Linked DNA regions of Homo sapiens: all the other regions are reported to be linked to region 1. Evidence: microRNA targets listed by miRTarBase, many of them from high-throughput screens and not tested one by one. Region 1 holds a microRNA gene; each other region holds the end of a gene's coding sequence.
What was found. The annotated mature microRNA hsa-miR-6499-3p reads AGCAGUGUUUGUUUUGCCCACA and lies in region 1 at 1,631-1,652, opposite strand. An mRNA with a match to its seed (bases 2 to 7 or 8) in the 3' UTR can be bound and repressed. Matches are read on the target gene's strand: a 7mer-m8 pairs with bases 2 to 8, a 7mer-A1 pairs with bases 2 to 7 and ends in A, and an 8mer does both.

Region 2: miRTarBase lists C11orf54 as a target of hsa-miR-6499-3p. Seed matches in the 3' UTR shown: 7mer-m8 at 3,712-3,718 and 7mer-A1 at 4,117-4,123.
Region 3: the mRNA of NUGGC is a reported target of hsa-miR-6499-3p. Seed matches in the 3' UTR shown: 7mer-A1 at 4,749-4,755, 7mer-A1 at 4,581-4,587 and 7mer-A1 at 3,784-3,790.
Region 4: miRTarBase lists TSPAN14 as a target of hsa-miR-6499-3p. Seed matches in the 3' UTR shown: 7mer-A1 at 2,325-2,331, 8mer at 4,105-4,112 and 7mer-A1 at 5,155-5,161.
Region 5: miRTarBase lists TTLL1 as a target of hsa-miR-6499-3p. The part of its 3' UTR that is shown has no 7-base or 8-base seed match.

What each region holds. Positions count from the first base shown.
Region 1 is chr5:151,520,458-151,526,407 of GRCh38, forward strand. It overlaps MIR6499 (microRNA 6499), which reads right to left and starts at 1,691; the gene lies at 1,630-1,691. FAT2 (FAT atypical cadherin 2) reads right to left here. Exons shown (of 24, transcript NM_001447.3): 18 at 5,311-5,508; 19 at 819-1,629. It also overlaps a transcript of SLC36A1 not described here. RefSeq lists an enhancer at 1,527-1,696.
Region 2 is chr11:93,760,618-93,766,567 of GRCh38, forward strand. C11orf54 (chromosome 11 open reading frame 54) reads left to right here. Exons shown (of 9, transcript NM_001286069.2): 9 at 898-4,132. The coding sequence ends at 1,071. Among named protein-coding and RNA genes, the nearest start is that of MED17, 21 kb to the right of the region's middle.
Region 3 is chr8:28,018,428-28,024,377 of GRCh38, forward strand. NUGGC (nuclear GTPase, germinal center associated) reads right to left here. Exons shown (of 19, transcript NM_001010906.2): 19 at 3,537-5,035. The coding sequence ends at 4,890. Among named protein-coding and RNA genes, the nearest start is that of SCARA5, 29 kb to the left of the region's middle.
Region 4 is chr10:80,516,729-80,522,678 of GRCh38, forward strand. It overlaps TSPAN14 (tetraspanin 14), which reads left to right. Exons shown (of 9, transcript NM_030927.4): 9 at 1,177-5,903. The coding sequence ends at 1,248. Among named protein-coding and RNA genes, the nearest start is that of TSPAN14-AS1, 16 kb to the right of the region's middle.
Region 5 is chr22:43,034,426-43,040,375 of GRCh38, forward strand. TTLL1 (TTL family tubulin polyglutamylase complex subunit L1) reads right to left here. Exons shown (of 11, transcript NM_012263.5): 11 at 5,091-5,480. The coding sequence ends at 5,351. TTLL1-AS1 (TTLL1 antisense RNA 1) reads left to right here and starts at 4,160. Exons shown (of 3, transcript NR_125362.1): 1 at 4,160-5,839. RefSeq lists an enhancer at 1-123.

The sequences.
Region 1 (5,950 bases):
TGGTAGGGCTGTGGTGCCGATTAGTTTAGGTGACATCTACACAGAGTGTGGCGTACAGCAGGCTCCCTATAGCAACTGCTACCACGGGAATGACAGTCACCGTTGATCTGGGGCTTATTGTGGGCCAGCCATGGGTTAAGTGCTTTTATAACTCTTACGTAATTTCCCCCCCGAACCCAACTCCAGGAGGCAGATGTATTTATTTTGACTATTTTATAGATGGGAAACTAAAAAGCTCAGAGGGTTTTAACAATACACCCAAAGTTACACAGCTAGTGACTGATGGAGCTAGGGTTTGAACCTGAGCTGTCTGAGTCTAAGCCTTGAGCTTATAACCACCAGACTATGGTAATAATAGTAGCAGTATTAGTAACTCACATGTATTGACCACTTTCTATATGTCAGGCACTGTTCTAAGCAAGCACTTGATACATAGTACTGATGTAATTCCTACAGCAGCCCAGCTCAAAGGCACAGAGAGGTTAATTTTCCTAAAGTCGCCTGGTTAGTAAGGGGTAGAGCTGGGATTTTAACCCATGAAGACTGAAGCCACAGCCTATGCTCTTAGCCATGATGTTAAACCACATATTGTAGTCTTACTGTTATTTTCTAAATCTCGAAAGGGAGCTGAGAATTGGGTATTATTCCATAACTAGATTTTGTGAGGCCACTAGCCGTCTTATGGTGATTGGTGGCCTTTGGGCTTATTAAAACTTCCCTGAACTCTCCCACAGAGCCTCAGTGGAATCTCCATGCTTAGAGTCAGGCGGGCTGAGCCCAGCAGTGCTGCTCGTCCCTAGGGAAGATGTAGTACTTACCATTGCAGGAGCAGCTCCTCTGCAGGTGGTGCCGCGGGGTTAGGATGCTGAGCCTGGCGGTGCTGTACGTGGGCCCAACCTTGGGGTCCAGATGCACTGTGTTATGGCAGATTTGACCCTGGCAGGTTGGCCCCTGGCAGGGCACCATGGGCATAGCTGACCGCATCTGAACCCCCACTGAATGCTCCATCTCCTTGGCTGAGTGAGTGATGATGGATGCTAGCTCCTGAAACTCGTAGAAGGTTCCAGAATGCCCCTCAAAGACCAGGAGCACATCCACACCAGCCACGGCCTCTGCAGGCTGGAGGCTGGCCAAGTGAATGTTAGCCCGTTTGATGTCCAGCTTATGGCTGAGGAACCTCTGCAGGTTCCGCCAGTGGTCACTCACCAGCTCCTCGGGGGTGAGCTGGTAGAAGCCCATCCACATGGCCTGCTGCAGAGCCTCCTGCCCCACATGCCACACGTACACATGGACCCCAGCAGTCGTGGTGAAGGTCCCATCGCTGACCGTGACGTTGAACGAGTAGTGGCCACGAGGCAGGCCCTGGGCGGCGATAATCTTGCCATCAGGCGCACCCACTGAGAAGTGCCTGCCCAGGGTCTCCTCTTCTGCCAGGCTATAGGTCAGCGTGTCCTGGGGGTCTCGGTCTGTGGCATGGATCTTACCCACCATGCCACCCTGGAACTCATCCTCTCCAACAGTGATGAAGATCTCCAGTGGGAGAGCAGAAGGTGCATAGTGGCTCTGCTCTGTGACATGGACACGGACAGACGTCAAAGACGAGAGGGGAGGGATGCCACTGTCTGACGCCTGTGGGCAAAACAAACACTGCTGTCACCCAACAGAACTGCAGTGCTCTTGCGCCCGACTGAGGCTGGGCCTCCTTGTGGAGCTACGTTTCTCTGCCCCACGCCCAACTTGAGGGCTGGCTCAGCGCATTGTTGCATTTAGAAAAAAAAAACCTAACTCCAAAAGCACTGACAGAAAAGAAAGATTTTCTGAAGGTTTTGTAGAGATTGAAGGAGGGAGTTACATCCTATACCATGCAGTAAAACAATGCAGTTTCCTCATGTGACATCTCTCTGAGCCTCTTCCTAAATCTCTCCAGCCATAGACTTGGGCTAACTTCCTCATGAAGTTTCTCATTCTGTCCCTGTCCTCAAGGGCGCCCTCAGATGTCTCAGCAATTCTGATGCACCATGCACCCTGCTCAGCCTACGAAAATTCCCCTTGGGATTCCCTTTTGCTATGCGATTGGAGTGGGAGTCGGGATTTGTCCTTCTAGTCAGTCAACGAAGTCTTCTGCTGTGGCCAGGAGAAAAGAGACAATAAATAAGTTACCAAATAACTTGGATAAAATGCTGGGAAGGAAATAAACAGAGACCTAACTTTGATCAGGTAGAAGAGAAGGAGTCTCTGTGGAGTGACATTTGAGTCCTGAGGGATGAGAAGAAGAGGCGACAGACAGAGGGAGCAGCAAGTGTAAGGTCCTGGGGTAGGAATGAAGGCGGTGTGTTCAACAGCACAGACGGGGTCACTGGTGCTGGAGCAAGTGGGCAGGGAAGCAGGCCTGACCTCACTGATGGGCTGGCACGCGCAGGGTTGCAGTTAATGTCAGAACTGTGAAAAGCCGTGAGGGTGACAGGACCTCACTTAAGTAGGGAAAAGAATGTAAATCATAAACGCATTTTCCTTTCATGTTTCACCACACATCCCTGCAACTTCCTGCCTGACTTAGAAAGGACAGGCTTGCCTTCTTCTCCTCAGTGATGTTATCACTTCCTCAGCTGTCAACGAGGGTCTCCACAATTTTCCCTGTAGTAATATCTTGTTCACCTGCACTCCAACACTTTTAATGTACAAGAAAGTTGATAAGATTACACCTACTGCTGGAAGTCATGCATAACACCGAAGAGATATTAATAGCAACAATAATAATTAACACTACTGTTAATTATAATGTATAGCTAACATTAGTTACAACAATACTACTACTACCGATTATATATAATACATAGCTAACATTAACTGAGTACAATGCTAGTCATTATCATAGATAAACTATGATAATGCTGTAAATACATTATCCTAGTTTATCCTTCTTATGAGATAGGTACTATCAAGTCACCCATCCTACAAAAAATATAACTGAGGCTCAAAGAGGTGAAGTAACTTGCCCAAGGTCATACAGCAGCAGATAAGGCCTGAGCAGAATCTGAATACCTATCTGTGTCTATAGCCTGTGTTTTTCTTTGCTGGCCTATGGTGCCTCCCAGTGCATGGAAGTGGAAGTACGGGACCAATGCAATTGATGGTGATGATGCCAGTCATTACTAAGCTCCTGTCTAGGCAGGACGTGTGCCTGGGTCTGAGAATACAGAGGTCAGGAAGCCATTCTCTCTCATCTCTCCCTAGGCAATCACATCCATGCTCTTGGCTTTGAGGGCCATCTACCAATCCTCTGAGCTGCCAACTCCAATTCCCAGCTACCCACTGGACACCTCTGCTTGGATGTCTCACAAACAACTGGGAAATAATGTGCAAAACAGAGCTTCGGTTTAGCCCATAAACCTGTCCTGCCTTCCCGTCTGGGCCTTTCCAGTCTCATAAATGCACTACCACCGAAGTCTTCATGGGAGCCAACAATTTAGAAATCACCCCTGAATCGTCTCTGTTCTTTCTAACTGCACATCCACTCCACCAACTCCTATCAATTTACATACAAAATATGTCCGAAATCTCTCCGCTTCCTGCATCTTCTCCATCACTCCGTGGTCTCAGCCCCACTATCTCCAGCTTGGATGACTTCTCACTGGTCTCCCTCACCCACTCTATAGAGCTTGAAAAATGAGCTTCCTGAGACACAAAGAGGATCCCTTTTCCGTCTGAAACCCTCCAACCACCTCTCATTGTACTTAGATTAGAATCTAAAAGTGTTACCAAGGCTTATACTTAGAAGATTGGATGCCCTGGTTTGTCAAGGACAGTCTTGATTTTTACCTGTTGTAAATCAGCTACTACCAAGTATTATTTTTAGTGCCTGTTTTGGACTCTATGTTTGTGTCCCCTCAAAATTCATATGTTAAAATCTAATCCCCAGTGTAACAGTATTTGGAGGTGGAGCCCTTGTGAATGGGATTAGGGCCCTTATGAGAAGGGCCATGTGATACAATGAGAAGCCGACAGTCTGCCATTCAGAAGAGGGCACTCACCAGAACCTGGCCATGCTGGCACCCCGATCTGGGACTTCCAGCCTCCAGAACTGTGGGAAATACATTTCTGTCCTTTAAGCCACCCAGCCTATGGTGTTCTGTTGTAGCAGCCCAAATGGACTAAGTCAGTGCTTCTCTCACTCTCAAAGATCACAGTTTGGACCTCAGATAATACAGTCATCCAAGCCACAAGGCCCACATGATCTACCCAGCCTATCTCCTCAGCCTCATTCCCACCCCTGCTCATGATGTTCTCAGTACCTCAGCCATACCTCAAGCCACTTCAGGCTCTTTCCCAACTCATGTTGCTCTTCCTGCCTGGAAGACTCTCCTGCCCACTTTTCACATGGTTGGCAGCTTGGCTCTCTGCTCAGATGTCACCTCCTGGGGGCAGCCTCCCTCTGAATGTGTGTCCCCCTGTCTTATGAGTCTCTCATCACTTTACTTCCTTATCATCATTTGTAAAGATGTTATTTCTTTCTTTATCTGTTTATTGTTTATCTCCATGATTACAATGGAAAGCCCCTGGAGACAGGAATCATTCCCTCCTTACCCTCTGCTATGTTCCTAGCAGCTTGCAAATGGCCTCGCATGTAGTAGATGCTCAATAAATACTTGTCGAGAGATGGACTGACTGACTGAAAGAATGAATACATCATTCCCAGCCCATAAGTTTACAGAATAGTAGGGTCCACTGGACTTGAGATTTAGGAAAGAGATTTGGAGAAATAAAGTGAGGGAGAGATATCAGACCACCATCTTGGCCACTGTTCTTTAGCAATTCCTATGAAACCCATAACACCACCACCAGAATCCCCTACACACATGTGCATACAATATCTCACTTGAGCCCCAAGCCAGTTCTCTGAGGTAGGTTGTTTTAGCTCCTGAGGTTCAGAGAGCTGTTCTGGCTAAGCTCTAGGAGCTACAGCCAGAGGGTGTTTTGCCCAGGCACAGAGCAGGGATTAAGAATTTGGAGTCTGGGGTCAGAGTGCTTGGGTTTGAAGCAACCCACCTTTGCCACTTATTACCAGTATTACTTTAAGCCAGTCACTTAAATCCCCTGTGTTCCTCAGTTTCCTCATCTGTAAAGCGGGGTGGTAACTATACCTGCCCTGAGTGTTATGAGGCTTTAGTCCTGAGAAGGACCTAGCCCAGTGCCTGATGCATCCTAAGTGCTTTGTACATTTTTTCCCTAATGACAGAAGCACTGGTGGGGCTTTTGCCAGCATCTTTACTGTCCCCATGGTCACCACCAGAAGCCTAGCACAGCTCTCACCTGGATCTGAAGCTGATACCATTCCTGAGCCCTCCTGCTTAGGCCCTCAGCAGTCACCAGCCATCCATCCGGGGTCACTCGGAAGGCAGAGCCGTTGTTCCCCTTGGTGATTCGAAACGAGTAGGGGGGGCCATTCTCTGGAGAATCTGGGTCACTCAGGATCAGCTGCAGGACTTTGCTGCCAATGGGGGAGTTCTCCTGAGACCGAGAGTGACAAAGAAGGCAAAGAGCAGAATGAGTCCCGGTCCTTCCTTTCGCACGTGTCTGGGTATGTCATCTGGAATGAGTCCTCAGCACTCTGACTGCTTGTAGATGGTGCCTGGACATCAAGCTGCTGCTCATTCATTCTGCCTGCCTTTGAGGTAGTTGTTGACTTTGCTGTCTAGACCAGGAGCTCCCCAAGGGCAATGTTGGGTCTTAGAAACACAGCCCATTGGGGCAGGAAGGATCCTTAGAGAACAAAGGTTAAACCCTTTATTCTGTAGAGAGATGACTTGCTCAAGATCACACACTGCTGAATCATGTATTTAAATTAGTTATTACCTGGATTACATAAGGGAATGTTGCGATTTGCAAAGCCAATTGAACACTTATAAATGATTTCTTCCTTAGAGGACCTGCATGCAATATGTATCTGATA
Region 2 (5,950 bases), not on the chromosome of region 1:
CAATTCAAAGCAAATACCTACTAAAATATTGGTCATATCTTCTCTTTTTTTTATTTTTTGTGACAGAGTCTCGCTCTGTTGCCCAGGCTGGAGTGCAGTGATGCAATCTCGGCTCACTGCAACCTCCGCCTCTTGGGTTCATGTGGTTCTCCTGCCTCACCCTCCTGAGTAGCTGGGATTACCGGTACTCACCACCACACCCGGCTAATTTTTGTATTTTCAGTAGAGACAGGGTTTCGCCATGTTGACCAGGCTGGTCTCGAGCTCCTGACCTCAAGTGATCCGCCCGCCTCAGCCTCCCAAAGTGGTGGGATTACAGGCATGAGCTACTCCGCCTACCCTGGTCATATCTTGATCCAGTGATTACATGCCTAGGATATTATACTTAAATATATGCATAATTGTGTAAAATTACTAGTTAAAAGGTTATTATTACAGTATTGTTGTAGTAGCAAAAGAATTAGAAATAATGCAAGTGTCAGTTGAGAAGTTACATACGCAATAGAATACCATGCAGGTATAAAAGAATGAGGAAGCTCTTTTATGATTTCATATACAAAGATCTCAAAACTATATTGTTACATGAAAAAAAGTTACATGCAGAAAAGTGTGTACAAAATACTACATTTGAGTAAAAATAAAAGTAAGTATTTATGGAAGGATATACAAGAAAATGCTTACACTGGTTACCTGCTAGGAAGGGGAGTGAGTGGTGAGGGCAAGAGAGAAGAAGATACATTTTACTGAATACATCGTTTTGCCCCCTTTGAATTTAGAACATGTGAATGTATTACCTATTTAAAAAATAAAAACTATTGCAACGTAAAAAGTTATCCCTCCCCCTTAAACTCTAATCAATAATTTGAGTACTAACATATTGTTTGTCTGTTATCTTAGGGGTTTGATTTGCGACTGGAGCACACTCATTTTTTTAGTCGTCATGGAGAAGGTGGACACTACCATTATGACACTACTCCAGATATAGTGGAATATCTTGGATACTTCTTACCTGCAGAGTTTCTCTATCGCATTGATCAACCAAAAGAGACGCATTCAATTGGGCGAGATTAAATCAGCTGATACTTATTTAGAAAAAGAAATAATTAAGGTTAATTAATTGATTGACTTATTAATTAATACTGATATAAAACCAATAGAAATGATCCCACAGGCCAGGCACAATGGCTCATGCCTATAATCCCAGCACTTTGGGAGGCTGAGGCAGGAAGCACACTGGAGCCCAGGAGTTTGAGACCAGCTTGGGCAACATAGCAAGACCCTGTCTATTTTTTTAAAAAAGTAAAAAATAGAAATTATCTCACTACTTAAATCCCATTTTTTTCACTTCATATGAAAGAACATATTGATAGTATATTCTATATTATTTCATAGATCTGTCTGAAAGAGATTGGGAACAAAAATATCTAATTGAGATATTCTTTAATTTTTTACATAGCAGCTTTATTTTTTTTATTCTGTAGTATCAGCGAAATCAGTCATGTTTATACCTTGAATATAAATATCAGGAATCATGCAATTATTTCTACTATGTATTTAGTAGTATCTTATATTTGTATAACATTATTACATTTTGCAAATTAGTATCACAACTGCTAAGTAGATGTTTCTGAGTATTAGAAAAATCAGTGTTATTACCTGCAGGATATTAAAAAACATTTGAAAAAGAGAAAAAGAAAAATCAGTGTTTAGAAATGTTGATAGTTATTGAATCTTTGAATTGAATTTTAAAAATCCATTCTAGTAATCAGAGTATACTTTTTTTATAGAACAAGGTGGCAGGTGGGGAGCCCTTTACCCTTCTGGTGAAGTTAAACCATAGAAGTTTACAATTTGCCTTTCACAAACATTAGCAGTCCGGGCATGGTGGCTGAAGCCTGTGATCCCAGCATGTTGGGAGGCCGAGTGGGAGGATTGCCTGAGCCTAGGAGTTTAAACCAGCCTGGGCACCATGGTGAGACCCCATCTCTATTATTTAAAATGTTTCTTAAATAAAAAAAACACAAACATTAGCAACTAGTTGGCTAGCCATAATTCCTCCCTTGTTTCGATTGCCAGTTAGAAGCAATTTTTATTTCACTGGTTATTTGCAAGAGAAGGGGTAAAAAAACAGCATCAGAGTGCAACACTGAAGTGAGCTTACTTTAATTTGTAAGTGAAGCTGTTGCTGAACATGACCACTATCGTTGCTGAAATATAAAATTATACTCACTGATTGTAATGGTTGAAATTTTCCTGAATAATCATTAGCCAAAGATCAACTCTCTAATGGTGCTAATGGCAATCTAGCTAATGTGCAAATTTAGGAAGTCTTCAGTACTAAGTACATAATTTTCAAATAATATTTTTTAATTGTCTACTTTGGATGTTAGCTATGTCTTGTGAGTATAAATTCCAATTTTAAGCACTATTTTGATGCAAAAAAATGAATAAAAAATTTAATTTATGATATGTTTGTAATATCTTACCTCCAGACAAAATAATATTAATAGTCTATCATTTAACAAATATGTATTGAACACCTACCCTTCTCTCTGGAGTGTACACTTCATGTGGGCAAGGGCCTTGTTCACGACTGTAGCACTAGTGCCTTTAACTGCTAGCAAAGTAGCCACTCGGATGATTATACCAAACACTTTACTAAAGCTGGGGATCTGTCTAGTGGGGAAGACAAACAATAAATATATAATATGTCAGGTGGTATTAAATGCTATGAAAAGAAAGGAGTAGATGGACTGTAAAGGAGGATGCTATTTTTTTGTGGCCATCCCGCACTGAGACAGGATGCATTCCACACTCAAAATTTGGTTCACATGTCCAGACTGATAGCCAAGTTCAGTGGCTCACGCCTGTAATCCTAGTACTTAGGGAGACCAAGGCAGGAGGATCACTTGAGGCCAGGAGTTCAAGGCCAGCCTGGGCAACAGAGAGAGACCCCCATCTCTGCAAAAAAAGAAAAAAAATTTTTTAATTATCTGGGCATGGTTGTGCACACCTGTTGTCCCAGCTGCTCAGGAGGCTGAGGCACGAGAATCACTTGAGCCCAGAAGTTGGAGGCTACAGTGAGCTATGATTGTTTCATTGCACTGTAGCCTGGGCAACACAGTGAGACCCTGTCTCAAAAAGAAAAAAAAAATGACTGATGAAGCCACACACACACCAACAGAGTATGAAAGGGTTGTTACTCACATAATGAAGCTTTCTGGGGAAAGCAGGGCAGCTCCTAAGCAGGATTTGACAACAGGGAAGGAGACTGACTTGGAGTTTTTTGGTGGTTAGGGAGTAGGGCCAGAGTGATGTTTCTTGCATGTGGTTTGAATTTCCCACTGGTATCAAAGAAGGAAACACCCAGGCTTGCTTGCTTTATTTTTTTAAAGAGATGGTGTCTCACTATGTTGCCCAGGCTGGGCTCAAGTCATCTTCCTGCCTCGGCCTCCCAAAGTGCTGGGATTACAGGCATGGGCCACCATGTCTGGCGAGCACCCAGGCTTTCTTAGCTTGCCAGAGGTGTAGGGCATAAGGGGACGAGGGGTGGGATAAGGCTTAAAAGCCACCAGCAGTCAAACATAAATTAAGTCAGATTCTTAATTACAGATTTCAGATCTGATTTCAGATCAGAGCTTATTTCAGGTCAGATTCCAGGTGTAGAGATCATCTGAAGCAGTCCTGGGCCTCTTCACACTACAGATACCAACACTGCCTTTACTCTTCCATTAGTGTCCTCCAAAATGGGGTGCATGGACAGCAGGTACACATGACCTTCCAAGGGGTGTGGGAATATTAGAACATCTATTTATATATTTTATTTCGTCCTTTTAAGTTTCTGTGGTTTTGTGTACATTTCTTACGTTAGGGATTTCAGTTCAAAATTGTATTGCTGATAGACACAATTCAAAAAGCTTGGAGACCAGGTACATTCACACCATCTAATAGAGATGGGGGAAAAGATCAAAATGCTTTTCTTTTTAAATTTTTTCTTAGTTTTCTTTCTTTATAGAGACAGAGTTTCGCCGTGTTGGCCAGGCTGTTCTCGAACTCCTGGCCTCAAGTGATCTGCCCGTCTCAGCCTCTCAAATTGCTGGGATTACAGGCATGAGGCACTGCACCTCACCCAAAGTGCTCTTCTTACTCTTACATTCACTCAGTATAACACAGAAAGCTTCTGTGACCAGATGCATGGGGGTTTTTCCCACACACCAAGCAATTCTCCAGCAGACATCAGCTGGGGGTCCTATAATTTAATTCAATTCTAACACTATTTACTTGGAGATAGCGTCAGATCCCACAGTTTAATGGTTCAATCCTCCAAGACTGCCTCCCACTTCCGATGCCAATCACAAGCTTCAGGTTGTGACCTGTACTTTTGACCAACCCACTGTAAATCGGGGTCTCTATGCCTACCTCTTCAGGTTTGATTAATTTGCTTAGAGCAGATCACTGAACCCAGGGAAACACTTTACTTATATTTTCCAGTTTATTAATAAAGGATATAATAAAGTATACAGATGAACAGCCAGATGGAAGAGATGCATATGGAAAGGCCAGCAGAAGTCCAGAGCTTCCACACCGTTTCTGGGTGCCCCACCTTCTAGGCATGTCCACCTGTTCAGCAATTTGGAAGCTATCCAAACCCTTTTCTTTTGGACTTTGGCTTTGTTTTTGTTTTTGAGACAGGTTCTCACTCTGTCACCCAGGCTGGAGTGCAGTGGCATGATCTCTGCTCACTGAAACCTCTGCCTCCCAGGCTCACGCAATCCTCCCCTCTCCGCCTCCTGAGTAACTGGGACTAACAGGTGTGCGCCATGACGCCCAGCCAATTTTTGTATTTTTCGTAGAGACGGGGTCTCATCATGTTACCCGGGCTTGTCTTGAACTCCTGGGCTCAAGTGATCCACCCGCCTCTGCCTTTCTTTTGGGATTTTATAGAGGCTTCCTTATGTAGGCAGAATTGATTAAATTATTGGTCACTGGTGATAAGTTCAACCTTCAGCCTTTCCTCTCCTTCAAGGTTGGTGTTGGGGCTGAAAGCCGGAATTCTTTAATCACGTGGTTAGTTCCTGGGCAAGGAGCCCCTATCTTGAAGCTATCCAGGAGCTTCTGGCATGCAGAAACCCACTTATCACTGTCATTTCATTAGCATACAAAAAACCATTTATCACTTTGGAGATTCCCAGGGTTTTAGGAGCTGTGTGCCAGAATACTGGGACTAAGACTATCTATACATACTGCATATCTTATTATACATCACAGTGTCATACCATCTTTCCAAACCTAAAATAAGAACACAGATAAACCTAAAGAATTGTCATCCAACCAGGTGCAATGGCTCATGCCTGTAATCCCAGCATTTTGGAAGGCTGAGGTGGGAGGATTGCTTGAGCCCAGGAGTTTGAGACCAGCCTGGGCAACATAGTGAGACCCCATCTCTACAAAAACTAAAAAATTAGCTGGGCATGGTGGCACATACCTGTAGTCCCAGCTACTTGGGAGGCTGAGGCAGGAGGATCACTTGAGACCTGGAGGCTGAAGCTATAGTGAATCCAGATGGCACCACCTCAGCCCATCCTTGGCAACAGAGTCAGACCATGTTCCTTTAAAGAAGAAGAATATGTCATCCAAAAGACCACCAGGATGGCTAAATAGTAGAAAGGAGAGCTATATTGGTGATTTCAGTTTGCACAGCGGGAAGAGACAGTCTCCAGCTTATGCCAAAAGTGCTCTCTTCCCAGAGGGAAAAGGGCAGATTGGTTTTTATGCCTCACAGGGCCTGTATCACACAATAGAGTAAAACATATTCAGCAGTTTTGGGAGAAAAGTTATACATATCTATGAGGGAAGTTGAACACACGTGCAATGGATAAACATATGTAACACAAATCCCACGTTCACTTTGGGGTAAGGTTTTAACATTAAAATAAGGTGGAACTTGGCC
Region 3 (5,950 bases), not on the chromosome of region 1:
TACATCGTTTCTGCTGTCATTGTTTTTATTCGTTTGGATGTATTATCCACTTGTCATCTGCTTACAAGTCTGCTGTCATTGTTTTTATTCCTTTGGATGTATTATCCACCACTGCCTTTGCAGCCTCCCCTTCACCCCTAACACACCCAGCTGGTTTTAAGATTTTCTTTTCATCACTGGTTTTCAGCAATTTGATTATGATGTGTTTTGGTGTATTTTTTCTTATTTTTCTTTTGCTTCAGAGTCATTGAGCATTTTGGATCTGTGGGTTTATAATTTTTATCAAGTTTGGAAAAACCTCAGACATTATTCTCTTAAATATTTTTTCCTATATCCCCACATCTTTACTGTTCTTCTGTGGTTCTAGTAATGTATATTTTAGGGTGCTCGATGTTTTATTGATGCACTGTTCATTTTTTTCCTCCTTGTGTTTCATTTTGGGTAAGTTCTATTGCTCTGTCTTTGAGTTTACTTATCCTTTCTTCTACCCTACCTAGTCTGCTGTTAATCCCATATAGACACTGAGACTTTTTAAATCTCTCCAAGTTCTATTTGAGTCTTGAATTTCTTCCATGTCTCTTCTCATTGTGTTTATGCTTTATTCTATCTTCTTGAGCATCTGGAGTAAATTTCTTATAGCAATTTTAATAACCTTGTCTACTAACTCTATCACCTGAGTTATTTCTGGGTCTATTTCTATTGATTTTTCTCATTATTGTTCATATTTTCCTGCTTCTTCATATGCCTGGAAGTTTTTGTTTTGATGCCATACATTGTCAATTTTCCATTGTTGAGCGCTGGAATTTTTTATGCCTAAATGTTTTCATGTTTTCTTCTGGGATGCAGTTAAGTTACTTGGAAACAGTATGATTCTTCTGAAGTTTTTTTAAAACCTTTATTAGGTGGATGCCTAACAGCCTTTCACTGAGGACTATTTTGACCCCACTACTAAGGCAATATTCTTCTGATCAGTCTACTCGATGCTTCAGGTGTAAGGTCTTCCACTATGGCTAACCTAGCTTGAACTGAGCTTTGCGGACTTTTCTGCTGGCTTCATTCCAGGGGTTCTTTCCTCATTTTTGGTAGTTTCCTCACAGGCATATGCTTATCAGTACTCAGATAAAGAATCAAAGGAGACCCACTTCACATCTCTGGAGCTCTCTGTCCTGCTCTCTTCTCCATGGTAATCTTCCCTGTGAATTCTAATCACCTTGGACTCTTCAAACTCTGATCTCTGTCCCCTCAACTCAGGGAGAACACTCAGTTCCTTTGGGGCTTCCCTTTCCTGTGCTGTGGTCTGGAAACTCAACCAAGTCATAAGATAAAGCATTGTAGGCCTCACCTTATCTCCCTCCCTTCTTTCAGGGGTGACTGTGTTGCACTATTTTCCCATATCTAAAAATTGCTGTTTCATAATTTTTGTTTGTTTGTTGTTGTTGTTGTTGTTTAACCAGAGGGTAAATCTGGTCCTGTTACTCCACCATGGCTGGAGGTGGAAGTCCTCTACATCCCTCTCGTGAAATATGAAAAGTGAACTATACAAACTGCAATAGAACGCTATGTGTTTAGAAGTTTAATGTGAAAATGAACCACTGAGACATAACCACATGGCTAAATCCCTTTTTCTCCTACTTAGGCAAAAGGTATTATAACAAAAAGAAAAGAATTTAAAATCCTAGAATTTCAAAGGAGCAAAAGATGTTTTAATCATCCAGTTCCTCTCTTTCCTTTTGTATATGAGGAAATAAAATCTCAGAGGTGTTAAGGAATTGTCATATTAGTATTGGTCAGAGCTGGGATCAGAACCCAAGTTTCCCAACAGACAAGCCACTGAACCATGTTATTTCCATTCTGCCCATAAACAATAGTGACCATTTATCAAGTACTATTAAGTACAATGTGTCCATATTTTGTAAGCATTATCCTAAACTTCCTGACAACCCTAGCAGTATCAGGGTAGGTACTACCATTGTCACCATTTTACAGATAAATTACCTGAAGCTCAGGGGGTTTAAATGATTTGTCTAAGACAGCTGTTCTCAAATATGGTCCCTGAAACTCTTCTGTGGGGTCTGCTGGGTTAAACTGTTTTTATAATAATACTAAGATGTTATTTTCCTTTTCTACCATGTTCACACTTGTACTAAAGGTGTAAAAGCAAAGATGGGTAAAACAACTTGCACCTTGGCATGAACCAAAGCAGTGGCACCAAACTACATTCAAAACTCTTGTATTTTTCACCGTCATGAACTTTCAGGGCTTTTAAAAAGCCAGTTGGACTTTAAAATGTTCTAAATGAAACAGTATGTTATTAATTGTATTAATTATGGACATCTATGTAGATGTCATTTTATTATTCTGTGGGACAAAATGGGAAATACACTTAAAGCACTTCTGCAAAGAAAAGCATTTCCTTGAGTGTCTGAGTTTCAGGCTGAACTTGACACTTTTTTCTTGGAACATCATTTTTATTTGAAATAATGACTGACAAACTATAGTTCATCATATACAGTTATATAGTAAACACTTTCCTAAAAATGAGGAAAGTGAATCTATCACTTCAAAGAAAGCAACTGACAACATTTGTCATCAATGATAAGATGAGCTTTTGGGGGGGAGATGGAATTTTGTAAAACATATTTTTCACTGTGAGCTTGACAGCTTCCCAATACTGCAATACTTTCCTGATGAGATTGGTGAAGACACTAACAAAATGATTTCATGGTAGTATACAATAAAATGCATCAACACTTGGAATATTTGCTTAACTCAGCGAATAAATATTTTCAAGATGAGCAATGCCTGATATCACAAAATCATGCATTAGTAAAAAAAATCATTCAAAGTACAAAATCAACCAGTGCACTTTAATGTAATAGCATTTGAAAAATGTTCACTGATAATGCTTTCAGATCCACACCACAATTAACTTTTAAGAAACTGCCATCTGCCTTTGTAGAATCAAAATATATCCCAAAATTACCTGAAAAAGCTATTAAAATACTTCCTTGTATTCCAACTGTATATCTGTGTGAGACTGAATTTTTTTCATATACATCAACCAAAACAATATATTGCAACAGAGTAGATGAAGAAACTGATATGAGAATCCAGCTGTGTTCTATTAAGCCAGGGAATAAAGAGATTTGCAAAAGTGTAAAACAATGTTACTCTTCTCAGTACCTTTTTTTTAAATAGCTTTTTACATAACAATGGGTTATTTTTGTTAACACGTAATGGGTTTATTATTGTTACTTCTAAAAAAGTTAGTAAATAATTACTTACATTTTCTCCTATTTAATTTCGAATAGTCAATATCATCAGACATAACCCACATAAACAAAGGCTCCTCAGCGTCCTTTAAAAGTGAAGAGTCCTGAGATCAAAATGTTTAGGAAGTGCTGGCCTTAGATAACACATCTGAGAAGTGATGAAGCCGGGTCTATGTTCATCTGGCTCCCAAACCCATTTTGTTTCCAGGATACGATGTTGCCTCCTTACCCAAAGTCTCATCAGTACTAAAATAAAAAACAGAATTGGATTCCTAAAAGCTTTATTTTGCAATGTTTTCCATAATACTTAAGTTTTTCAACGTTTAGATATTTTTCTTTATTGAAGGATGAATTTCTTTTTATGGCTTGTTTTATATCGTGCAATGTTTTTTCTATAATGTTTAAGTTTTTTTATGTATGGGTGTGTGTGTGTATATATATATATTTTTTTCTTTTTCTTTTTTTTTTTTTTTTTTTGAGACATAGTCTCACTCCGTCGTCCAGGCTGGAGTGCAGTGGCGCGACCTTGGCTCACTGCAACCTATGCCTCCTGGGTTCAAGCGATTCTCCTGCCTCAGCCTCCCAAGTAGCTGGGACTATAGGCACATGCTACCACGCCTGGCTAATTTTTTGTATTTTTAGTAGAGATGGGGTTTCACTGTGTTAGCCAGGATGGTCTCAATCTCCTGACCTCATGATCCGCCCGCCTCAGCCTCCCAAAGTGCTGGGATTACGGGAGTGAGCCACCATGCCCAGCGATGTTTAGATGTTTTTGCGGAAGCAAAAGTTTCTTGCCCTAAAGCTTTAGAACTCCATTAGGTATTGAAGATGACTCTTTGGGGCTATAAAATAAAATGCAGTAAACATACTAGTTTTATATTGCATGCAAAGTCCAAATAGTTGAGAAATGTCCTCTATTAGATTTCACAAAACAGAAAGAATTCTGAGCCAGGCACAATGGCTCATGCCTGCAATCCTAGCACAAGAGACTGAGGTGGGAGAGAATCACTTGAGGCCAGGAGTTTGAGACCACCCTGGGCAACAGAGCAAGATGCCATCTCCACAAAAAATTAAAAAATTACCCAGGTATGGGCCGGGCACGGTGGCTCATGCCCGTAATCCCAGCACTTTGGGAGGCAGAGATGGGTGGATCACGAGGTCAGGAGTTCAGGACCAGCCTGGCCAAGATGATGAAACCCCGTCTCTACTAAAAATATAAAAATTAACCGGGTGTGGTGGCAGTCGCCTATAATCCCAGCTACTTGGGAGGCTGAGGCAGAGAATTTCTTGAACCCAGGAGGTGGAGGTTGCAGTGAGCCGAGATTGCACCACTGCATTCCAGCCTGGGTGACACAGCGAGACTCTGTCTCAAAAAAAAAAAAAAAAAAATTACCCAGGTGTGGTGGCCTGTACCTGTAGCCCCAGCTGCTCTGGAGGCTGAGGCTGGAGGATCGCTTGAGCCTAGGAGTTCGAGGCTGCAGTGAGCTGTGATGGTGCCACTGCACTCCAGCCTGGGCAACAGAGGTAGATAGATCTTGTCTCTTAAGAACAAAAAAAGTAATTCTAATTCTCTGGCTCTGGGCTGATTTTTCATCCATTGGGACTAAGCCCCAGGAGTTACAGTGATGTCCCGGGGGGGCCAGCCTTGCTGGGGGATGCCCTTAGGAGGAATTCTTGCATGCCCTTCCTCAGCCGTGCATTCTCCGCGACCTCCCTCAGGCTTCTGTGCAGCTTCTCCATCTCCTTGTATTCACTCCCGACATCTACAGGAGAGCAGAAAGCTCACATCAGGACTTGGTGTCCGTTGCAGAAACGTCTCCAGAAAGCAAATCCCCCAACAATCCTGTCACTTGTCCCAGAATATGAGATCTGGAGTGGTGCTTACAGATCAGACATCAAAGCAGGTGTTCCTCCTCTTACCAGAAAGCTTTCTCAGCATGGGGTCACCCTCAAAAGAAACCCAAACCTACCCATAAGAAAAACCCTGAGAAGTCACTGGGTCTGTATTAAGGCTTCACAGGTGTGTGATATACAAAGCATGTTGCACAATAACACCTCCTCTAATTCCTCTCCAGGCGGCTCCCCCTCTTCCCCCCACCCCAATCCCTATCCTCCCAGCACAACCCATTCTCAGTGAATGTTCTCTTTCTGGCATCTCAGGTTTTAATCCCATGATCTGTAATCAAACCATGTTCTCACAATGGTTAGTTTTATGTGTCAACTTGTTTAGGTCACAGGGCCCAGAAACCGGATTAAACGTGAGTCTGGATGCCTCTGGGAGGGTGTTTTTGGATGAGATTCACATTTAACAGGGATGCTCCAGTGACAGCCTTGGGCCTTTGACATGGAGTTTTGCTCTTGTCACCAAGTCTGCAGTACAATGGCATGATCTTGACTCACTGCAACCTCTGCCTCCCAGGCTCAAGTGCTTCTGCCTCAGACACCCAACTAGCTGGGATTACAGGCACCCACCACCTCGCCTAGCTAAATTCTTTCTTTTTTTTTTTTTTTTTTTTTGTATTTTTAGTAGAGACAGGGTTTCACCACGTTGGCCAGGCTGGTCTCGAACTCTTGACCTCAGTTGATACACCCGCCTCGGCCTCCCAAAGTGTTGGGATTACAGGCATGAGCCACCGTGCCCGGCCAAGCCTTGGTTGGGCCTTTGTCTGCAACATCGA
Region 4 (5,950 bases), not on the chromosome of region 1:
GAGGGTGGCCTGAGGCTCACGTGTGTGCACTTGCCCCAGGACCTCTCCTCCTGTCTCTGGCCCCTGGGCTGGAGTTGTCAGGTATCTTCCCTGTCCATGAGACATCCTCTGAGGCCTGCTGCCGTTTGTGGCATCCTTTCCTCTCCCAGGCTGTGCTTGTTCATTTGAACCAGGTTGCACATGTGGGAGGATGTTGGTGGCTGAGCAGGCAGTGAGGCCTGGGGTGACTGGGCTGGTTGGTGACTGCTAGGAGAAGAACTGGCAGAGAAAGTCAAGAATTCAGTGATCAGAGAAACCAGGAGTCTTTCCAGTGCTGTTCAGGGCTTCCAAGAAGCCGCAGCTTCTGGGTCCACTGATGCATTTCTTGTGTGGAAAATAACACCATTTAGAAAGTGTTTGACTCTGTTTTTGCCTTGAAGAGGGTGACTGAGGTAGACCCAGGGCCACCAGCCACCCACACATGCCTTCCTCCTTCAAGGAAGACTAAGAAATAGGAGGAAGCAACTGGAAAAGGAAAGAAAAAAGTTATTTGCAAAATAGGCAAGGGAAGAATCAGACTTCAGAAGGACTGACTAGTCAAATTAGAACCACACAAGAATTTAAAGGGAAAAAAAGCCATTTCCAGAGGTCACCAAGTTCGTGTTCATCTGTTCACGTTAGAAGAACATCAGTCTCCTCTCATGATTTCCCTGCTCACCAAGGTTGGGATGGATCTTCAGACATTATTAGCACAGCCAAAATTGGGGATGGCCTTGGTTTTATTATGGAATCGACGTTTACAGGAAACATTCAAGATTTATTATTTTGGGAATGAGAACCAGTCAGCGTGACCCTGTTATTTTTGGTTTAACCCAGGGACAGGCGTGTCCTGCCCCATGGCTTGTGACATACTTAATCATGTTGGAGGCAGGACAGAGTGTCTGTTTTGCTTGTGGTGCCTGTGGTTTGCCTCTTCTAGGCTTTGGGAATGTAACAGACTAGACCCCAGGACCCCTTTTTTGCGGGAGGGGTGGCTGTGCTGTGCCACTCGCTCTGCGGTGCTGTCTCTACGTCTTCAGTCGCAGCTGGGGGGTGAGGAGAGGCGTGCAGTGGGAGCTCCCAACCCCACCCTCCGCTCCCTGCCCTCTGCCTTTGGGCCCCAGCAATGGCCGCTGACTCTGCTGGTGTTGGTTTCAGATATTTGGCATCTTCCTGGCAAGGACGCTGATCTCAGACATCGAGGCAGTGAAGGCCGGCCATCACTTCTGAGGAGCAGAGTTGAGGGAGCCGAGCTGAGCCACGCTGGGAGGCCAGAGCCTTTCTCTGCCATCAGCCCTACGTCCAGAGGGAGAGGAGCCGACACCCCCAGAGCCAGTGCCCCATCTTAAGCATCAGCGTGACGTGACCTCTCTGTTTCTGCTTGCTGGTGCTGAAGACCAAGGGTCCCCCTTGTTACCTGCCCAAACTTGTGACTGCATCCCTCTGGAGTCTACCCAGAGACAGAGAATGTGTCTTTATGTGGGAGTGGTGACTCTGAAAGACAGAGAGGGCTCCTGTGGCTGCCAGGAGGGCTTGACTCAGACCCCCTGCAGCTCAAGCATGTCTGCAGGACACCCTGGTCCCCTCTCCACTGGCATCCAGACATCTGCTTTGGGTCATCCACATCTGTGGGTGGGCCGTGGGTAGAGGGACCCACAGGCGTGGACAGGGCATCTCTCTCCATCAAGCAAAGCAGCATGGGGGCCTGCCCGTAACGGGAGGCGGACGTGGCCCCGCTGGGCCTCTGAGTGCCAGCGCAGTCTGCTGGGACATGCACATATCAGGGGTTGTTTGCAGGATCCTCAGCCATGTTCAAGTGAAGTAAGCCTGAGCCAGTGCGTGGACTGGTGCCACGGGAGTGCCTTGTCCACTGTCCCCCTGTGTCCACCAGCTATTCTCCTGGCGCCGGAACTGCCTCTGGTCTTGATAGCATTAAGCCCTGATGGCGCCGGTGGCGCGGTGGGCATGGTTCTTCACTGAGAGCCGGCTCTCCTTTTCTTAAAGTGTGTAAATAGTTTATTTATAGGGGTAAGAATGTTCTCACACCATTTCACTTCCTCTTCCTCTCCTCCAGCATTCTCCTCTGAGCAGCCTTAGATAGTGTCCATGGCTGGAGCCGACCCTTTGAGTCCCCTTGAGTGTCTTAAGAACCAGCCCACAACAGCCTCTCTTTCTCCTCCACATACTGCAGCCTCCCTCCATGCATCCCACATACAAGCACTCCCCCACTCCCCAGCGTGGCCTCACTGTCTTCTGGTCTTGGTGCTACTGAAATTGTCACCCAGAATTTGAATCCTGACCCTCCCCACTGCAAGCCCAGGGAGCCCCAGCCCAAGATGGCCAGCCTGAAACTGTTGGCCAGGGCTCCTCTTGTGGCCATGTACCCAGGGCTGGCTGGCCTGCCATTTGCCTCTCCCCGGAGACAGCCGTTCTTCTGCAACCACACCCCGTGCCTAGCCACAACCCCAGGCTGCAGCTGCTCAGAAGCTCCAGGCATTTTGTTTCTGGTGACCGCCCCTAATGGGATATCGGTGATCACTGGTCCACCCTTCCTGTCAGGGCTTTTCTGGGGCTGCTCTTGGAAATGAAGTCTTAAGTACTGAATAACTCCCCTGGGGATAGCTGGGGCATTTGTCTAGCTGGGCTACTTTCTAACACTTTGCCATAGCTCAGACCACTTCTCATCGTTCAGGGATGGACTGCAACCTTAATTTACTTGCCGGAGTGTACATTCTAGTGTGGTGTATACTGGTGGCTGTTGATGATGATTTTTTTTTTTTTACACAATTCTCTGTAGACTAGGAGAAGAATGCTTGTGTTTTTCGGAAGTGTGATGCTTCTCTTTGACTGCCAAACTCTTTTATGGAATATATCTTTATATTAATGCTGTTTTGGTCATTTTTGTTTGGGGTCACTATTGAGATATTGCTAAGCATCTCAGTGGTAAACGCGGCTGCCAGAGGAACCAAGGGATAGGGTATGTAGACCTTACAGAAGGATGGATGGTAAAGGCAGTCCATCATCAGCACAATCTGACTTACATTTCATTGAGTAATTTTTTTTTTTTTTAAGATTCTGTATGGCAGCACTTTCAGTTGCCCTTGTGTGCCGGCCACAGCCGCACAAGTTGGCTTGTGGTTTATCCCCCGCTATAAGTGAGAGCTGGAGAAACTTCAACTCCATAGGTCTAGAGGAAACATTGTTTTAGGTTATTTCTGTCCACCCCTGTGCGATACTATTTATTGATCCAAGCAGAAGAGCTTGGGGACACTGAGTCGAAGTGGGGACATGGGATTGAAGCCTGGGCACTGCTGCTGCATGAGCTGTGTGTCCTGGGTGTGCCGGCCTTTCTGTGAAGGGGGTTGGTGGCAGTGCCCACCTCACTAGATGCCTCTGACCCAGCCTCCCCTGGGGGAGTGGGTGGCCACAGACCCTCCCTGCCAGAGCTCCTGGAAGGCTCCTGCAGGCCTGACCCATCTATTCCTGTAGACCTGGTTTAGGATGAAGTCTCGGTGCGATTTTTGCAGAGTTGGGTTTATCTTTCAACTATAGACCCTTCTGGCTGTTCTCAGCCATATCATGTGACTCTGAATAGTTGGATGAGGAATGGAAAGAAAGCAAGGATGAGAGCCGGTCACGTGGCAGTCTCCGCCCAGCATCGGCTGTCCGCACAGAGGCACAGGGCAGGCCTCCTGTGCACTCCCCACCTAGCACTGGCCTGTCCTGAATCCCCGCCTTCCCTGGTTGGAGGCCAGCTGTGGCATTTGCACCCTCTTCTCACCTCACCATGCACATGCTAACTTTAAAGCCTTGGGGTCTTTCCTGTACCCCCTCCTCAACCCTGGTCCACCCCCTCTCAGGATCTTGTCAACGTTATTTTTCCTGTCCCGTCTTCCTATCGCTGGCCTTCCTTTCCCATCCTAAAAACTTGCCGAGGCCCTATGGCTCCCTCCCTTTCTTTCCCAGGCAGCTTCTTATCTGGGCTGTCTGTACCCCTTCCTTTGCACCACCCACCATGCCCCACGTAGCTGAAAGCTGCTTATCCCAATTGTCAACTCTGGCCTTCTTCAGCCTCTGTAGCACCAGACACTGCACCTCCTGAATGTCCTCTGCTTCTCTGCTTCAGAGGCCCAGGCTCGCCAGTTCTCTGACCTCTCCCATATGTCTGCTTAGGACTCTGCTGCAGCTGTCCTCACCAGCCTCCGGGGAATCCCACTACCCACAGGGCAGGGCTGTGGGCTGGGCTGAAAAACCATCTGCATGGTCCACAAGAAGCCTGGCACTGGGTTTCCCCATGAATAACAATGAAAATTAATGGATGCACAACCTTCCTGGAACGTGGAATTTCTCTGGGAGATTCCATGCAGAGGCCACTGGGGAGGTGGCAGGCATGCATGTGACTGTAGGTGGCTGCAGTGTTGGAAGGCTCCCAGCAGAGCAGAGAGGGTGTCAGTCTCATCAGGGAACCCACCTGATGGCTTCTCAGCCAGCAGTCTCAGAGGAACATAGACGACTGCTGAGAAAGGAGGGAGGCAGCAGTGGTCCCAGCACCTGAGGCATCCTGCTGTCATGGGAAGGTCTCCGCCCAAATGTCAGATGCATCAGCCTGTCACCCGCTGGTCCAGAGCTTTCAGCTGTACTGGTAGGGGGTGGGTGGTGGAGTGCTGAATGACCTTCACAGGTGGGCCTTTCCAGCTCTAGGGTCTTACGGGTGTCGGTCCACAGAACCACGGTTTTTAGGTTGTGTGTCCGGGGCTATGGGAACCTGTCCCCCATGATGGATCTTGGTAGAGACACTTCCCTCTGTCATCGTGCCCAGGAGGATGCTGCAGGTGACTACCTGCAGCCCTGTTCTCATTCATTTGGATGCCCTCCAGAAATCTGGGGAGCCATACACCTTTAGAGCCTTTTTTGCTCCTTATCAAGTTGGCAAGGCTTGGCCAATTCCTGTTCAAGGCTGCATTAAAGGCATGTTCACCATCCTGGCTAATACGGTGAAACCCCTTCTCTACTAAAAATACAAAAAAATTAGCCGGGCTTGGTGGCGGGTGCCTGTAGTCCCAGCTACTCCGGAGGCTGAGGCAGGGGAATGGTGTGAACCCAGGAGGCGGAGCTTGCAGTGAGCCGAGATCACACCACTGCACTCCAGCCTGGGCTCAAAAAAGAAAAAAAAAAAAAAAAAAAGGCCCGTTCATTCTCAAATGCTTTTGGCGTCTCCAGGGTGCCTCAGGAAAACATGAAGTGGGCATTGTAGAACTTGGGGCTACTGTGTAACTTTGGAAGAAAAAGTTAAGGGTACTTTTAAGTGGATACTGTTTTGATGAAATTGCCAACTTCAGGGAGCCCAGCTTGGAGAAGGAGGACGTGAGTATTCCTTACAAGGCTCCGAAACAATTCTTTCTTCACTTAGTTTTCTTTCTGTGCTCTGCATCTTATATTCCAGCAGGGTCTTCCAATGCATGGTTTAATAACTACTAGAACTGGCCAGGTGCAGTGGCTCACGCCTGTAATCCCAGAACTTTGGGAGGCTAAGACAGGCAGATCACTTGAGGCCAGGAGTTCGAGACCAGCCTGGACAACATGGTGATACCCAGTTTCTACTAAAAATACAAAAATTAGTCGGGCATGGTGATGTGCACCTGTAGTCCCAGCTGCTCGGGAGGCTGAGGCAGGAGAATCGCTTGAACCCGGGAGACAGAGGTTGCAACGAGCCAAGATCGAGCCACTGCGCTCCGGCCTGGGTGACAGGAGACTCCATCTCAAAAAATAAAATTAAAAAAAAACTACTACAATAAATTATCACCTTGGACTGTATAAAACAACTTTTAAACTAGTCTTTTTAAAAAGTACACTTAAATAAAAATCTAAACATAAGAGAATGTAAAGTGAAAAGTGAAAGTATGTCTTCTGTTACGCAGAGGTAACTACTATT
Region 5 (5,950 bases), not on the chromosome of region 1:
CTGTAATCCCGGCACTTTGGGAGGCTGAGGCAGGCGGATCACAAGGTCAGGAGATCAAGACTATCCTGGCTAACACGTCAGGATGTAGACATGTTTAGTAGAGAAACCCCGTCTCTACTAAAAATACAAAAAATTAGCCGGGCGTGGTGGCGGGCGCCTGTAGTCCCAGCTACTCGGGAGGCTGAGGCAGGAGAATGGCATGAACCTGGGAGGCGGAGCTTGCAGTGAGCTGAGCTCACGCCACTGCACTCCAGCCTGGGTGTCAGAGTGAGACTCCGTCTCAAAACAAAACAAAACAAAACTAGCCGGGCATGGTGGCGCATGCCTGTAATCCCAGCTACTTCTTGGGAGGTTGAGGCATGAGAATGACTTGAACCCAGGAGGCAAAGGTTGCTGTGAGCCGAGATTGTGCCACTAGCCTGGGCAACAGAGTGAGACTCTGTCTAAAAAAAAAAAAAAAAAAAAAAAAAAAGGAAAGAAAGGGGGGAGGGGAGGGGGGAGGGGAGGGGTGGGAAGGGGAGGGGAGATTAGGTGAGTTAAACTGGAATTGTGGGGGAATGTTGGCCAAGTGGCAGGCAGGGTGGGCCTGGGCCTGAGGGAACGCCATGGGCCCCTAGACTTGTTCCTGCTGACAGAGCGCCAGCGGCCGGGCAGGAGCATAAGCAAGGTGGGTTTGCATCTGTCACTGGAGGAGCGCTCCGAATGCTTCTCAGGACAAAAGCAGGAGGCCGCCATTGTTCACAGGATGTGAGATCTAATATGGTTCAGGCTGGGGCAAATCAGTGAAGATCAAAATCCCTCGTCTTCCACAATGAGAGACTGGAATCAAAAGTGGATGTGCTCCCACCTGCTCACAAAGGGTCCTCACGTGCCCCAGGGCCCTCCACTGGGGCACAGTTCACATTAGGGGACACACAAACAGCCTGAGGGTGCCCAGTCGCTGAGCAGCCCCAGTCGCTGTGCCGTTACCAGCAGGCAGGGCCCTGCAGGAGACCTTGGCCTCCCCAGACCACAGGGGCTGCAGGGCTGCTGCGGGGAGAGGGCCAGGCGGCCGCAGCACAGCTGGGAATGGCTCCAGAGGGGAGGGTGGAGAGTGCGCTGGCCCCTGGGGGCACTCAGAGAGGAGCTGCGTGTGTTTGGCACTGGTGGACATGGTGTGTGGCAGTGTGAGCCAACAGGCCAATGGGTGGCAAGCATAGGAGGCTTTATGGAGCACCCTGAAGAACCACTGTGTGGAGGGGAAATGGCCCCCTGTGAGGAAAGTCCTAGCAGCTGGTGGAGCGCAACCAGATGCGGGTCCAGACTGATGGGGTCTCCATGGCAGCCCAGGTGGGAGGCGGAGGAGGAGAAGGGAGACAGTGAGAAGGTTGTCACCAGGCCCTCACTAATACCCGGGGAGCAGCCCGTGTGCAAAGGAGGTGAAGGATGGTGGTTTTCTTTTGTTTGAGATGGAGTCTTGCTCAGTTGTCCAGGCTGGAGTGCAATGGTGCGATCTCGGCTCACTGCAACCTCCGCCTCCTGGGTTCAAGTGATTCTTCCGCCTCAGCCTCCCAAGTAGGTGGGATTACAGGCATGAACCACCAAGCCCAGCTAATGTTTGTATTTTTAGTAGAGACGGGGTTTCACCTTGTTGGCCAGGCTGGTCTCAAACTCCTGACCTCAGGTGATCCACCCACCTCAGCCTCCCAAAGTGCTGGGACTACAGGCGTGAGCTACTGTGCCCAGTCGAGGATGGGTTTATATTGGGAAAACCAAGCCTATCAAACTTGGTGAAAACGACCACAGGATGCAACCCTCTGGCCTGGGACCCACCCCATCAAGTGTGTGGGGGCTGACAAGAAAACAGCAACGGCTCCCGGACAGCTCCCAGCAGGGCTCACTGCTTAGCCCCAGCCTAGCGCTGAATGGGGCTGTTCCTGGCCCGACAGCCTCCCGAGGCCTGCTGCCAACACCGCACCCTTCCCACCCGTGTCCTGGAAGTGCTCAGAGGAAACATCTGCCCAGAACATGACATCACTAAATCATTAATGAGACAGTCACTATATGACATAAATCCACTTAGCAGAGCCTCACTCTCACCTAGCAACTGGGTCACCAGCAAACTAACCACTTGGTGTGACTCTTCCATTAGGACTGCGTGGCCCCGGAGCCTCAGAGGCCAACGTTCCCAACCAGGGACTCCACCCTTCTCCCAGAGGGAGGCAAAAACAACACAATGTAACTGAGAACCGGGTTGTAAAAACCGGTGGAAGAGCTGGGAACAGTTAACGGGGTGTCTTTCACTTCTGCGTGTAGGAGCCGAGGTGGAGCCGCCAGCTGTGCAGAGGACACCCCCTCCTGGGAGGTAAGAGGGCTCGCCAGAGCCAGCAAGGCGTGCGGGCAGGGTCCCTGTGCGGTGGTACTGGTTGTTTCTGAGGCAAACAGAACTCCCCCCCTTTTTTTTTTTGAGACGGAGTTTCGCTCTTATTGCCCAGGCTTGAGTGTAATGGCGCCATCTCGGCTCTCCGCAACCTCCGCCTCCTGGGTTCAAGCGATTCTCCTGCCTCAGCCTCCAGGCTAATTTTTGTATTTTTAGTAGAGATGAGGTTTCACCATGTTGGCCAAGCTGGTCTCGAACTCCTGACCTCAGATGATCCACCCTCCTCGGCCTCCCAAAGTGCTGGGATTACAGGCATGAGCCACTGCGCCCGGCCACAGAACTCCCCATTTTATACAGTGGGAAACAAAGGTGCAACGACCCCAGGGACAGGCTTGGGAAACAGCTAATAAACAGCAGAGCCAGGCCACAAGGCCAAGTCTGACTCGGGGATCTCCATCCCACACCCGCCATCAACAGCAAACACATTAAAACTAAACCCCACGGCTGGGCGCAGTGGCTCACACCTGTATTCCCAGCACTCTGGAAGGCTGAGGCAGGCGGATCACCTAAGGCTGGGAGTTTGAGACCAGCCTAGCCAACATGGTGAAGCCCCATCTCTACTAAAAATACAAAAATTAGCCGGGCATGGTGGTGTACACCTGTAATCCCAGCTACTTGGGAAGCTGAGGCACGAGAATCACTTCAACCCGGGAGGCAGAGATTGCAGTGAGCTGAGGTTGCGCCACTGCACTCCAGCCTGCTGGGCGACAGAGCGAGACTCTGTCTCAAAAACAAAACAAAACAAAACAAAACTTAAACACCAGGGAACACACACAACACACATACCAATAAGATCACGAAGAAGGAATGGCTGAAAAGCCCACCAATTGTAGTTTATTTGGAGTCCAGCCAAGTACCATTTGTGTTGAAAAGACCTATTTTTCCCTAATTGGCAGTGAAACATCATTAAATATATGTACTCATATACACACACACAATATGGCATGTACACTTGACACACGTCCATGCATGGGCACTGAGAGAGCCTGGGCAAGTCAGTTAAGACCCTTATCTGAAGGACATACCCTTGGTGCCATTTGGGAGAACAAACTCCTGTTACTAGCATTGCAACAAAAACAGGTGGCAAGCTTTAAAGATAAACTCAAGACAGCGAGTGAAACTTCAGCAAATACGTGTTAATACGACCATGAGTAAAAGGCCCTTCCTGGCCGGGCGCAGTGGCTCACGCCTGTAATTTCAGCACTTTGGGAGGCGGAGGCGGGAGGATCACCTGAGGTCAGGAGTTCGAGACCAGCCTGGCCAACATGGTGAAACCCCGTCTCCACTAAAAATACAAAAATTAGTTGGGCGTGGTGGCAGGCGCCTGTAAGCCCACCTCTTTGGGAGGCTGAGCCATGAGAATCGCCTGAACCCAGGAGGTGGAGGTTGCAGTGAGCCTAGATTGTGCCATTGCACTCCAGCCTGGGTGTCAAGAGTGAAACTCCACCTCAAAAAAAAAAAAAAAAAAAAAGACCCTTCCTAAGAACAGCACTGTAACTCATGAGTTATTACTCAAATGCATCTGTCCATCTACCCACCAACTCAGGTCCTCTCCATACACTCCTGTAAGTCACCGGGCTACCGGGAGACTGCATGGGAACAACCACGCTCGCGCAGCCTGTCCCGCAGCCATCGCTCCTCCCACAGCTCCTGGCTGCCCACGGCGCTTCCCTGTAGCAAACCCAGCTGCTGACGTCATAAAAGGCACACAGCCGGACCTGTCTGTGCTCATCTAGTTCCATTTACAACAGACTCATCCACAAAACCGAAGTGGTAGAAACAGGTCTTTTTGAAGCCAGGCGTGGTGGCTCATGCCTGTAATCCCAACACTTTGGGAAGCTTAGGCAGGAGTATCGCTTGAGCCCAGGAGTTCGAGAACAGCCTGGCCAACATGGTGAAACTCTGTCTCTACAAAAAAAACTTTAAAAAGTAGCTGGGGGTGGTGGTGTGTGCCTGTGTGGTCCCAGTTACTCGGGAGGCTGAGGTGAGCGGATCACTTGAGCCCAGGAAGTTGAGCCACAATGGCACCACGGCACTCCAGCCTGGGTGACAGGGCGAGATCCTGTCTGAAAAGAAAAAAAAAAAGAAAAGAGAAGAAAAGAAAAGAAAACAGGTCTTCCTGGGAGCACCTAGACAAAGGCCTTTGTAAAGATAAATTACCGAGGAATATTTCTAGTTGCCTGTTTTCTTCAAAATCACAGTCAAGTAAGCTGGGCGTGGTGGCTCACCTCTGTAATCCCAGCATTTTGGGAGGCCGAGGTGGGCAGATCACCTGAGGTCAGGAGTTTGAGACCAGCCTGCCCAACATGGTCAAAACCCCATCTCTACTAAAAATACAAAAATTAGCCAGGTGTGGTGGCACACGCCTGTAATCCCAGCTACTTGGGAGCCTGAGGTGGGAGAAATACTACCCAGGAGGCAGAGGTTGCAGTGAGCCAAGATTGTGCCAGTGCACTCCAGCCTGGGCGACAGAGCAAAACTCTGTCTCGGGAAAAAAAAAAAAAATCGCAGTCAAGTAAAAAGAAACGCAACTAAAAGAGCCGTCAGTTAAATACATTCCTCTCTCGTGGCAGGACGAGTCTATAAGATTTGTTTTGTTTTTAATTTAGTGTAAAGTTTTTTTAATGTTTAAACCTTGTGACACATCAAATTACATGCTTGAAGCTGTTACTTTCTGTCAAAAAAGTGAGTTTTTAATATGAAAATTCTGCTTAGGTTAAAAATTAAAAAAAAAAGAGCGAGTTTTATACATCCGCATGAATTGTTTCCTTTAGCACTAGTCAAACAGACTCCATAACCTTCCAAAGAAGTGCCTTCGTTTATTTACAGGGCTTAGGAAAGGAAAAAAGCTCTACAAAAGGGAAATTTCAAAATAGGGCTTCAGCAGGGGCCCAGGTGGAGTGAGTAGTTTTGATAAGGTCCAGGTGGGACTCACTTCCAGGTGGTGAGGACCGCTCTCCCCGAGTCTCTCGATCGGCCTGCTCTGGGCCCCAGAGACTGACCCTGACGGCTTCTCAGCTCCCGGTCAGCCCCGTCACCCTGGGCCAATTCTTCATCATACCTGGAGACAGAAACAGCCAGGATCACGGCAGGCTCTCTTTCAAAGGCAACAGGCAGGGCCACCAGGCTGCTGTGTGGCAAATATGACATCACCCAGAGAAGCGGCCTGAGGGGGCCCCACCCTCGCGACTCCTGCTGGCTCCCGCCCACCTCCCACCTGGCTCCAGCCCACCTGCCTGCCAGGTGGCTCTCGCAGCCCAGCAAATGCTCCCCAAGGCCAGCCTGCCTATGTGTACAACCTTGTTGTTATTGTGGACAGTGGTCTCCCCTCGGAAGCTGACATTTTATACAGGTCACCAGGTCAAATATGGCAATGACTCCAAAGGCAACATGCATGAGGTGACACAGAACCAGCCCAGGGTAAGTGAGGTGAGACTGCCTGGCTGGAAACGCTTCACACAAGGCACCTGCAGGCTGGGGGGACTAACTCCATTCCAGATGGGAGTGGTACATGAGCACTGGTCAGTGGAG